Regions from separate parts of the Homo sapiens genome. Here region 2 is linked to region 1. Evidence: fine-mapped expression QTL. A gene starts in region 1. The other region holds a variant in brackets. All regions are shown on one strand. Distances are between the middles of the regions.

The links. PIP is the estimated chance that this variant, and not a neighbour inherited with it, causes the effect.
Region 2: its variant is the best candidate, but not a certain one, in a credible set for the expression of INCENP in left ventricle (GTEx, PIP 0.58).

The regions. Positions count from the first base shown.
Region 1 is chr11:62,121,835-62,125,834 of GRCh38, forward strand. INCENP (inner centromere protein) reads left to right here and starts at 2,177. Exons shown (of 19, transcript NM_001040694.2): 1 at 2,177-2,329. It overlaps LOC124902681 (a long non-coding RNA gene), which reads right to left and starts at 1,877. Exons shown (of 2, transcript XR_007062697.1): 1 at 1,823-1,877. RefSeq lists enhancers at 1,788-1,877, 2,408-2,477, 2,467-3,048.
Region 2 is chr11:63,077,221-63,081,744 of GRCh38, forward strand. It overlaps SLC22A24 (solute carrier family 22 member 24), which reads right to left. Exons shown (of 10, transcript NM_001136506.2): 8 at 4,338-4,446; 9 at 3,700-3,903; 10 at 2,720-2,780. The coding sequence ends at 2,720. Among named protein-coding and RNA genes, the nearest start is that of SLC22A8, 64 kb to the left of the region's middle. The variant C/T (reference allele first, on the strand shown) is at 2,331.

The sequences.
Region 1 (4,000 bases):
GAATTAATAAACAGAATGATTAACGATTGGGTAACATATCCTTTTATGATTCAGCTGATTTCCAATTATTTACATTCTTCAAAGAATAACTCAGAAATGTTTAGTTAATTTGCTCACAAATTATTTACTCACATATGATGGAGTCAGTTGGTAAACTGAGTAAAATAACAAAGGCAAAAACAGAATTGATAAAGAGAGGGAAGAAAGGGAGAGGAAAAATACTACAGACGACCTGGGAACAGGGTAAACTATCTGTTGGTAGCTGACCGTGGATGTACAAATCTCTTCAAGATTGAACTGCCTTATTTTACAGGTAACAGCAACCTTGACTCACAGAGTAAAGTGACTTTGTCTAAAGCAGTTTCTCAACAGCAGCAATTCTGGTATCTGGGGCCGGGTAATTCCTTGCTGTGGGGACTGTCTTATGCACTAGATGGCGTTCAGCAGCATCCCTGGCCTTTACCCACCAAATACCACTAACCCCTTCTCCCAAACCCAAATGAATTCACACACTGCCAAATGTGGGGGGCGGAGGTGGGATAAAACCTCCTCTGCATGAGAACCACTTCTCTCAAGAAACGTCCAGTACCAGGGTAGGTGACCAAGGATTCTGTCGCCCAAGAGATGACAGAAGGCTCTAGATAAACGCACACTCCGTTGCCATTCACAAGGCGTTTTGTTTTTACTTCTCAAAAGCGGCAGAGATTTTTTTTTTGAGACGGAGTTTTTTGCTTTTTGTGGCCCAGGCTGGAGTGCAATGGCGCGATCTCGGCCCACTGCAACCTCTGCCTCCCGGGTTCAAGCGATTCTCCTGTCTCAGCCTCCCGAGTCGCTGGGATTACAGGTGCAAGCCACCACGCCCGGCTAATTTTTTTTTGTATTTTAGTAGAGACAGGGTTCCACTGTGTTGCCCAGGCTGGTCTCGAACTCCTGAGCTCAGGCAATCCACCCGCCTCGGCCTCCCAAAGTGCTAGGATTGCAGGCGTGAGCCACCGCGCCCGGCCAGAGATTCTTTTTTTTTTTTTTTTTTTTTTTTGAGACGGAGTCTCGCTCTGTCGCCCAGGCTGGAGTGCAGTGGCGGGATCTCGCCGGCCAGAGATTCTTTATAGGACATATTAGTCCTTGTCTTTCCCCCCCCGCCTCCATATTGGAAAGATGAACTAATTGAAATATGACTTAGTAAAAACATTGTGCCAACTTGAAACCTTGATTTAGTAAAACATCTCAATGTTTAGATCCTTTGTCCAATGGTAGTATTTATCAGATGTATTCAGCTTGCTCAGAAAACCAAAAGGGCATTACAACCACAAAAGCAAAGAAAAATAAGAAAACGTCCCATGTTTGGATCTTGTTCTACTTGTAAAGATTAAATTGAAATGATTAGGCTTTTCGATTCATGAGCCAAATACCGTAACACCCTGGCCTTTGATGGGTTTGGATTTTTAACATTACTCCTGAGATTTCAGGAAGTGGGGTTACAGTTACACTCCTTATAGCTGCTAAGTGTATTAAGTTGAATGTAAGGATGCATAATATTGTTTGAATTGAGCCCCACTACCAATTCTTTAAAAAATGGCATGAATTCCTATACGTAAATGATTTGGTGGAACTATTCCATCATAATTTCTAAATTGTTTATATACCAAGGTAGCCTTAATTTGTATATGTTTCAGTACAATGAAATTTTACTCCCTCTGGGATGCTGTTTGGTTTGTATTTTGAGGAATGTTTTTCTCATGGGAAGAGGAACCTATGACTTCTGTACCTAGATAATTTGTTACATTAAAAAGCTGGTCTTTCAGCAATGTAAGTATATACATACATGTTTTTATGAGGAAAAAAAAGCAGCAGAGATCAGAAGACTGCCACCGTGCTTGGAGAAGAAAGAAAGCCGCGCGTGGCCTTCGCAGTGCTCGCCGGGACTCGTAGTTCCAGGTCTGCGGGCTCCTCCCAGGCGGGGATCTACTTCCTCTCTCGGCCGCGGCCGCAGCACCCGGAAGCTGAGGGGGCTTAAAGTCTTTCGCTTCCTTTCCCCGCCTCTTAGTCCCGCAGATTGCTAGTGGATATGGCCAATAGGAGGGCTGACTGGTACTTCCTGTTATTTGATTGGCTTAAAATTTTGCAACCGCCCGGACAAACTTGCCGAGGATTGGCTGAGCCTTCAGTTTTGAAAATCATAGTTTTCGCCCGCGCTGCGCCGCCTGGTTGCTCCTCCCGTGCGGTGAGTCCCGAAGGCCCGGAGCCAAGTGGGTCTGGGCAAGCGGGGCCTTACCTAGGGATACCACCGGACTTGGATCGGAGCAGCCTTCAGGGGACGTGGCGCAGTCGAGTGAGTGCGCGTGGGCGTGGGGATTGGGGGGTGGTTCGCGATTTTTTCCCCGGTCCTCTGCTCCGTCCCTGTCGACTCCGGACCAGGGTCGTGACTCCCCACCCCAGCCCCTGGCTACCTGGGCATATGAGGGTCACCTCTTCCAAGTGGCGAGGTCGCCTGCCTTGGTTCTCGGGCCCGAGATGCCTCCCACCCTTTCCACCTAGGCCCTCAGCTTCCTAGAGCATAGCCCCGTTCCCTCCGCTCCCGGCTGCTTGGCACCTTGTGCCTGTGAGGATTAGTGTTGACTTGGACGCGCAGGAAGCCCGAAACCAACCCGGTTGTTTGGCGGAATGATGCCAGATGGCATTTCTGTGCAGTTAAACCCCTCTCTCAACGCCCCCGCCCCCAGCTGAGCAGCATTTTAAACTGACCATTTCCGGAGGCTGGGCCGCCCCTTGTCACTCCCCAAGCCTGTTCGCTGTCAGCGGTTCAGTCTCATTCAGCTAACATGGGTTGCTCGCGGGGTTGCCCAGAGCCAAGACTGGGCACCTGCCTTTCAGAAGTTGATATCTAGAAGGCGGTATAGCCAGTGGTTAAGGGCACGGTTTAAAGGCGGTATAGCCCGTGGTTAAGGGCACGGTTCTATTTATGCCCCTGATTTACCGGCTGATTTTGACTTCTCTTTGCCTCAATTTCCTCATCTGCCCATGCGTATCCTCAAGGTTGTGGTGAGAATTAAATGAGATGATGTCTGACTCGGGCATGGAGTATGACTCAGTAAATGGGAGCAGCTGCTATGCGCTTTCTGCACAGAGGTGTGGTAGGCGCCCAACTTACAGCACCCTGAAAAGGACAGGAGTCATAGAGGAGGACGATGGGGCCTTCAGTCTGGTGTATGGTGTGGAAGAAGTGTTGGAGAGGAGGAAGACTGGAGAGTGTCTTCCTCGGTGAGGTGTTGAGTGCTCTTTATCTGTGTGCAGGTGCTTACATGGGTTGAAGAAGAGATTTTTGCTGCTCTTCCAGGAGCCTGATTCTTGGTACACTGATTCCTTCTTTTTCAGGGTCACCTCTGTTTTAACTTACGGTAACCCTTTTTAAATCGTTGCGCTAAGGTCTGCTAGAAGCAAACCTCCCCGTGAAAGAAGTCCAATTGCTTTCATGGACTTTGTGAAAGAAGCTCTCATCCACGTTGCCCATTTGAACAAATACTTTTTAAAAAGTTAGCCAGTTGTTGCTTTTCTCTGCAAACCTTTGGCTTCCTTAAACAGTTTTCTCTTTTCTGGCCTGAGGTCCTGCGCTTTGCCAGGGCTGTGGTCTGGGTGCAGAAGGGTTAGGGGAAGGTGAGGGATGACAGTGAAAAGGGCTTGCCCATGATTGGCTGGCTGCAGAGCCGAGGTTTCAGCCCAAAGCCTGTACGATCCTGCCCATTTGGCCCTGCCCTGATTATTGCTGCCCTTGGCATCTGGGAACAGGGGTTTTGAACATGTGTTGGTCAGTTCTAACCTGTGCAGATTAAGTTTATTTGGTGCCCTTTGTGTGGTGGGATGAGCACCTATAGGATGTTTATTTCTAGGTGTAGAGTTGATGGGTGGATTAATTCATTTAACAAATAGTCCTTGTTGCCAGGCACTGCTGTGCTCTGGGCATTCAACGATGAGCAAGACAGACAGGGGTTTGCCCTCAGAGAGC
Region 2 (4,524 bases), 960 kb after region 1:
TTGGCTAGATATGAAATTCTCGGTTGAAAATTCTTTTCTTTAAGAATGTTGAATATTGGCCCCCACTCTCTTCTGGCTTGTAGAGTTTCTTCCGAGAGATCTGCTGTTAGTCTGATGGGCTTCCCTTTGTGGCTAACCCGACCTTTCTCTCTGGCTGCCCTTATCATTTTTTCCTTCATTTCAACTTTGGTGAATCTGACAATTATGTGTTTTGGAGTTGCTCTTCTCGAGGAGTGTTTTTGTGGCATTCTCTGTATTTCCTGAATCTGAATGTTGGCCTGCCTTGCTAGATTGGGGAAGTTCTCCTGGATAATATCCTGCAGAGTGTTTTCCAACTTGGTTCCATTCTCCCCATCACTTTCAAGTACACCAATCAGACGTAGATTTGGTCTTTTCACATAGTCCCATATTTCTTGGAGGCTTTGTTCATTTCTTTTTATTCTTTTTTTCTCTAAACTTCCCTTCTCACTTCATTTCATTCATTTCATCTTCCATCACTGATACCCTTTCTTCCAGTTGATTGCATCAGCTCCTGAGGCTTCTGCATTCTTCACGTAGTTCTCAAGCCTTGGCTTTCAGCTCCGTCAGCTCCTTTAAGCACTTCTCTATATTGGTTATTCTAATTATACATTCATCTAAATTTTTTTCAAAGTTTTTAACTTGTTTGCCTTTGGTTTGAATTTCCTCCTGTAGCTTGGAGTAGTTTGATCATCTGAAGCCTTCTTCTCTCAACTCATCAAAGTCATTCACCATCCAGCTTTGTTCTATTGCCGGTGAGGAGCTGTGCTCCTTTGGAGGAGGAGAGGCACTCTGCGTTTTAGAGTTTCCAGTTTTTCTGCTCTGTTTTTTCCCCATCTTTGTGGTTTTATCTACTTTTGGTCTTTGATGATGGTGATGTACAGATTGGTTTTTGGTGTGGATGTCCTTTCTGTTTGTTAGTTTTCCTTCTAACAGACAGGACCCTCAGCTGCATGTCTGTTGGAGTTTGCGGAGGTCCACTCCAGACCCTGTTTGCCTGGGTATCAGCAGCGGTGGCTGCAGAACTGCGGATTTTAGTGAACCGCGAATGCTGCTGTCTGATTGTTCCTCTGGAAGTTTTGTCTCAGAGGACTACCTGGCTGTGTGAGGTGTCAGTCTGCCCCTACTGGGGGGTGCCTCCCAGTTAGGCTGCTCGGGGGTCAGGGGTCAGGGACCCACTTGAGGAGGCAGTCTGCCCATTCTCAGATCTCCAGCTGTGTGCTGGGAGAACCACTGCTCTCTTCAAAGCTGTCAGACAGGGAAATTTAAGTCTGCAGAGGTTACTGCTGTCTTTTTGTTTGTCTGTGCCCTGTCCCCAGAGGTGGAGCCTACAGAGGCAGGCAGGCCTCCTTGAGCTGTGGTGGGCTCCACCCAGTTCGAGCTTCCTGGCTGCTTTGTTTACCTAAGCAAGCCTGGGCAATGGCGGGCGCCCCTCCCCCAGCCTCACTGCTGCCTTGCAGTTTGATCTCAGACTGCTGTGCTGGCAATCAGTGAGACTCCATGTGGGTAGGACCCTCTGAGCCAGGTGCGGGATATAATCTCCTGGTGCACCGTTTTTTTAAGCCCATTGGAAAAGCGCAGTATTCGGGTGGGAGTGACCCGAATTTCCAGGTGCCGTCTGTCACCCCTTTCTTTGACTAGGAAAGGGAACTCCCTGACCCCTCACACTTCCCGAGTGAGGCAGTGCCTCACCCTGCTTTGGCTCACGCACGATGCACTGCACCCACTGTCCTGTGCCCACTGTCTGGCACTCCCTAGTGAGATGAACCTGGTACCTCAGATGGAAATGCAGAAATCACCCGTCTTCTGCATCACTCATGCTGGGAGCTGTAGACTCAAGCTGTTGCTATTTGGCCATCTTGGCTGCCTTCTCTAAATTATTTTTTCCTTGCAAATTGATGTGGATGTTCTGCTGCTAAGGAATTCATCTTCAACATTGTCTCATCTCTTTTAAAAATGCATTATCCATTTGTAAACTACTAATTTCTCTGGAGCATTGTCCCCATAAACTTTTTGTAAAGTCTCAATGATTTCACCATTCTTCCACCTAAGTTTCACCATAAATTTGATGTTTGTTCTTGCTTCTATTTCAGCAGAATTTGTGTTCCTTGGATAACAGCTTTTTTCACACAAACATCTTATCCTTCTTAGTGCTTCAAAATAGATCCTGTTCAGCCATGTTATAAAAAATTAGTACAGATTTATTTTGGCACAAAAATTTGAACTCTATGCATAGTTTACTCATAATATGCATTTTCATGAATTTTTTGAAGACTCTTTCTGTATACTTGGGCATGTTTCTGGAGTCATTA[C/T]GGTGTGTTAATGCAAACAAATTATAATGCATTTGCTATTACTGTTTTGTTGATTGTAGTTTTATAAAAAGTCCAGCATGTGCTTTACCGTATATGAGTCAGCCTGATCGTCACTCCATGATGCTCTTTTTCCTGAATCATCTTGGCTGTTAGTGATTTTCAGATGAATTTGAAACTAGTTGTGCAACTTCTTCCCAAAAGCAAATCATTATTTCATGGAATCACTTAAACTTATAAGGTATTTTGGAATTACTGATACATGTAGTACCATAATTATAAATGGCATCTGTCTGCACATTATATTTTTGGCTAGTTTTGCAGATATAAAGGCATAATCTTGATTCCCCCTGCCCATTTTGCTCTTCTTTGGATCAGGTCTTGGGAATCTCTTAAAACTGTGTTACTTTCATGCAAGTATCTTCCTGCTTTATGTTTCTTGAATCTTTTCTGCTGAGAAATAGAAATGCAAACAAAAACAAGATTAAGAAACAAAAAATAAATAAGATATAGATTAAGCATATATATACTGTGTGCCTGAGGACAAGCTGCCCTCTACCCACCAGCATTGTAATCCAAGATTCTCTAGATATTGATACTATTGTGTTGGAAAAGGCCCTGATACCTGGGCATTCCTGGGAAGGCAGTGTTGAATATTGATACTCTCACCATTGTCTCTTTGGATCTCAGACCAATGACATCTTTAGTAAATCAAAGCGAGAATTGAAAATTTTAAAGCTATTGTCTTATTTTTCATCATTTAAAATCCTGCTTTCTTTTCTTAATTTTGTCTCCTCAAAATTTCTGTTGCCCATGGCAACAAATTTGCCTAAATCTCAGAGGCATCCCAACAAGATCCATTTCCTTCAGATACATCGTTATTTTTGCAAAGGAGATTTTGCTCTATGCTGTAGTCCCATGATTCTTTGACTGAAGCAATAATTAGGTATGAGGCAATCTCATTCCCTTTCCCACCACATAACAGGCACTCATTGAGCCAATGTGTGATAAAACCAGGGGATGAGAATGAGGCATTTGAGTCTTAGCAGATTTGTGAGAAAACAACAGGAGTGTGTGTTTCCCACAAGGGCAGAAAGTATGTGCCACTCATAATAGGCTAATTTGGATCTTTTCACCACTGAACCTTCTGGTGTGAAATGGTCTGTGTGACATAGAGGGCCTCAAGAGTCTGACTCCATTGTGGATAGGGTAGGCTGCTACTGAACTAAAGGACATGGTGACAAATAGAAAAGTCCTAGGTCTGAGCCTACATGAAGGACAGAGGGCCCCAAATGGTCGTTGACCTTTCTCATTAAACAGCTACAGCACATAGCCACTCCCCACTCAAGTGACAGCTAGAGGGTTTACTCACTCATTTTCCACATCCTGGATGGTGTTAGGAAGAGGTAGATCCCTGGTTTCTGGAAGGAGGAGGATAACAGGGACAGCAAGGATGGGGAAGACTCCATAGGAAATCCAGGGTAGGTGGGGAGAATACGCCATTAAGGTCATCAACAGAGGAGCCAGTGCTGCCCCAGTCCTACCGGACACTGCATTGATTCCTGCAACTGTTGACCTTAGAGTGCAAATAACAATACAAAAAATCTTGTATGAATCTGTACATGTCAGCTCTTTATCATCATTATTTCTTTATGGGGACCAGTACAACAGAGTTACTAAACACATGGGCTTTGACAGCAAGCCCTTAATTGTGACATTTACCTCTGTTGGTTTCTACCTATTTGATAGTATAATGTTGGTAACTGCTCTTAACCTTAGTTTCATAATTACTAAAATAGAGATACCCATAGCATTAATTAACCTGTAGCAATAACCCGCAGCTTTGATAATTTGATAATAATAGCACATATATGGCTCTCAGTTACTCTGTTCATTTCTATTACAGTTAATTCATCTGGCACCTAAACAGTGTCAGTCTTTCATTCACAATGAATATCAATAAATTCAGAAATTTGTGTTTTGAAACCAGATGGTCTTTAGCTCTTGTACCTCAATATGGTGGGGACGAGCTCGTTGTGGTGGACAGAAGCACTGTTGCTAGCAGCAGAAACACTACCAATTCCCAAAGTTGCTAAAACCACACGCAGGATCTGCATTTCTAGAGAGAACAGTGAGAATCAGGAAATCTTGCCTGAAGAAACTTTTCAACCCCCAAATAATTGTAAAAAGATTCTAA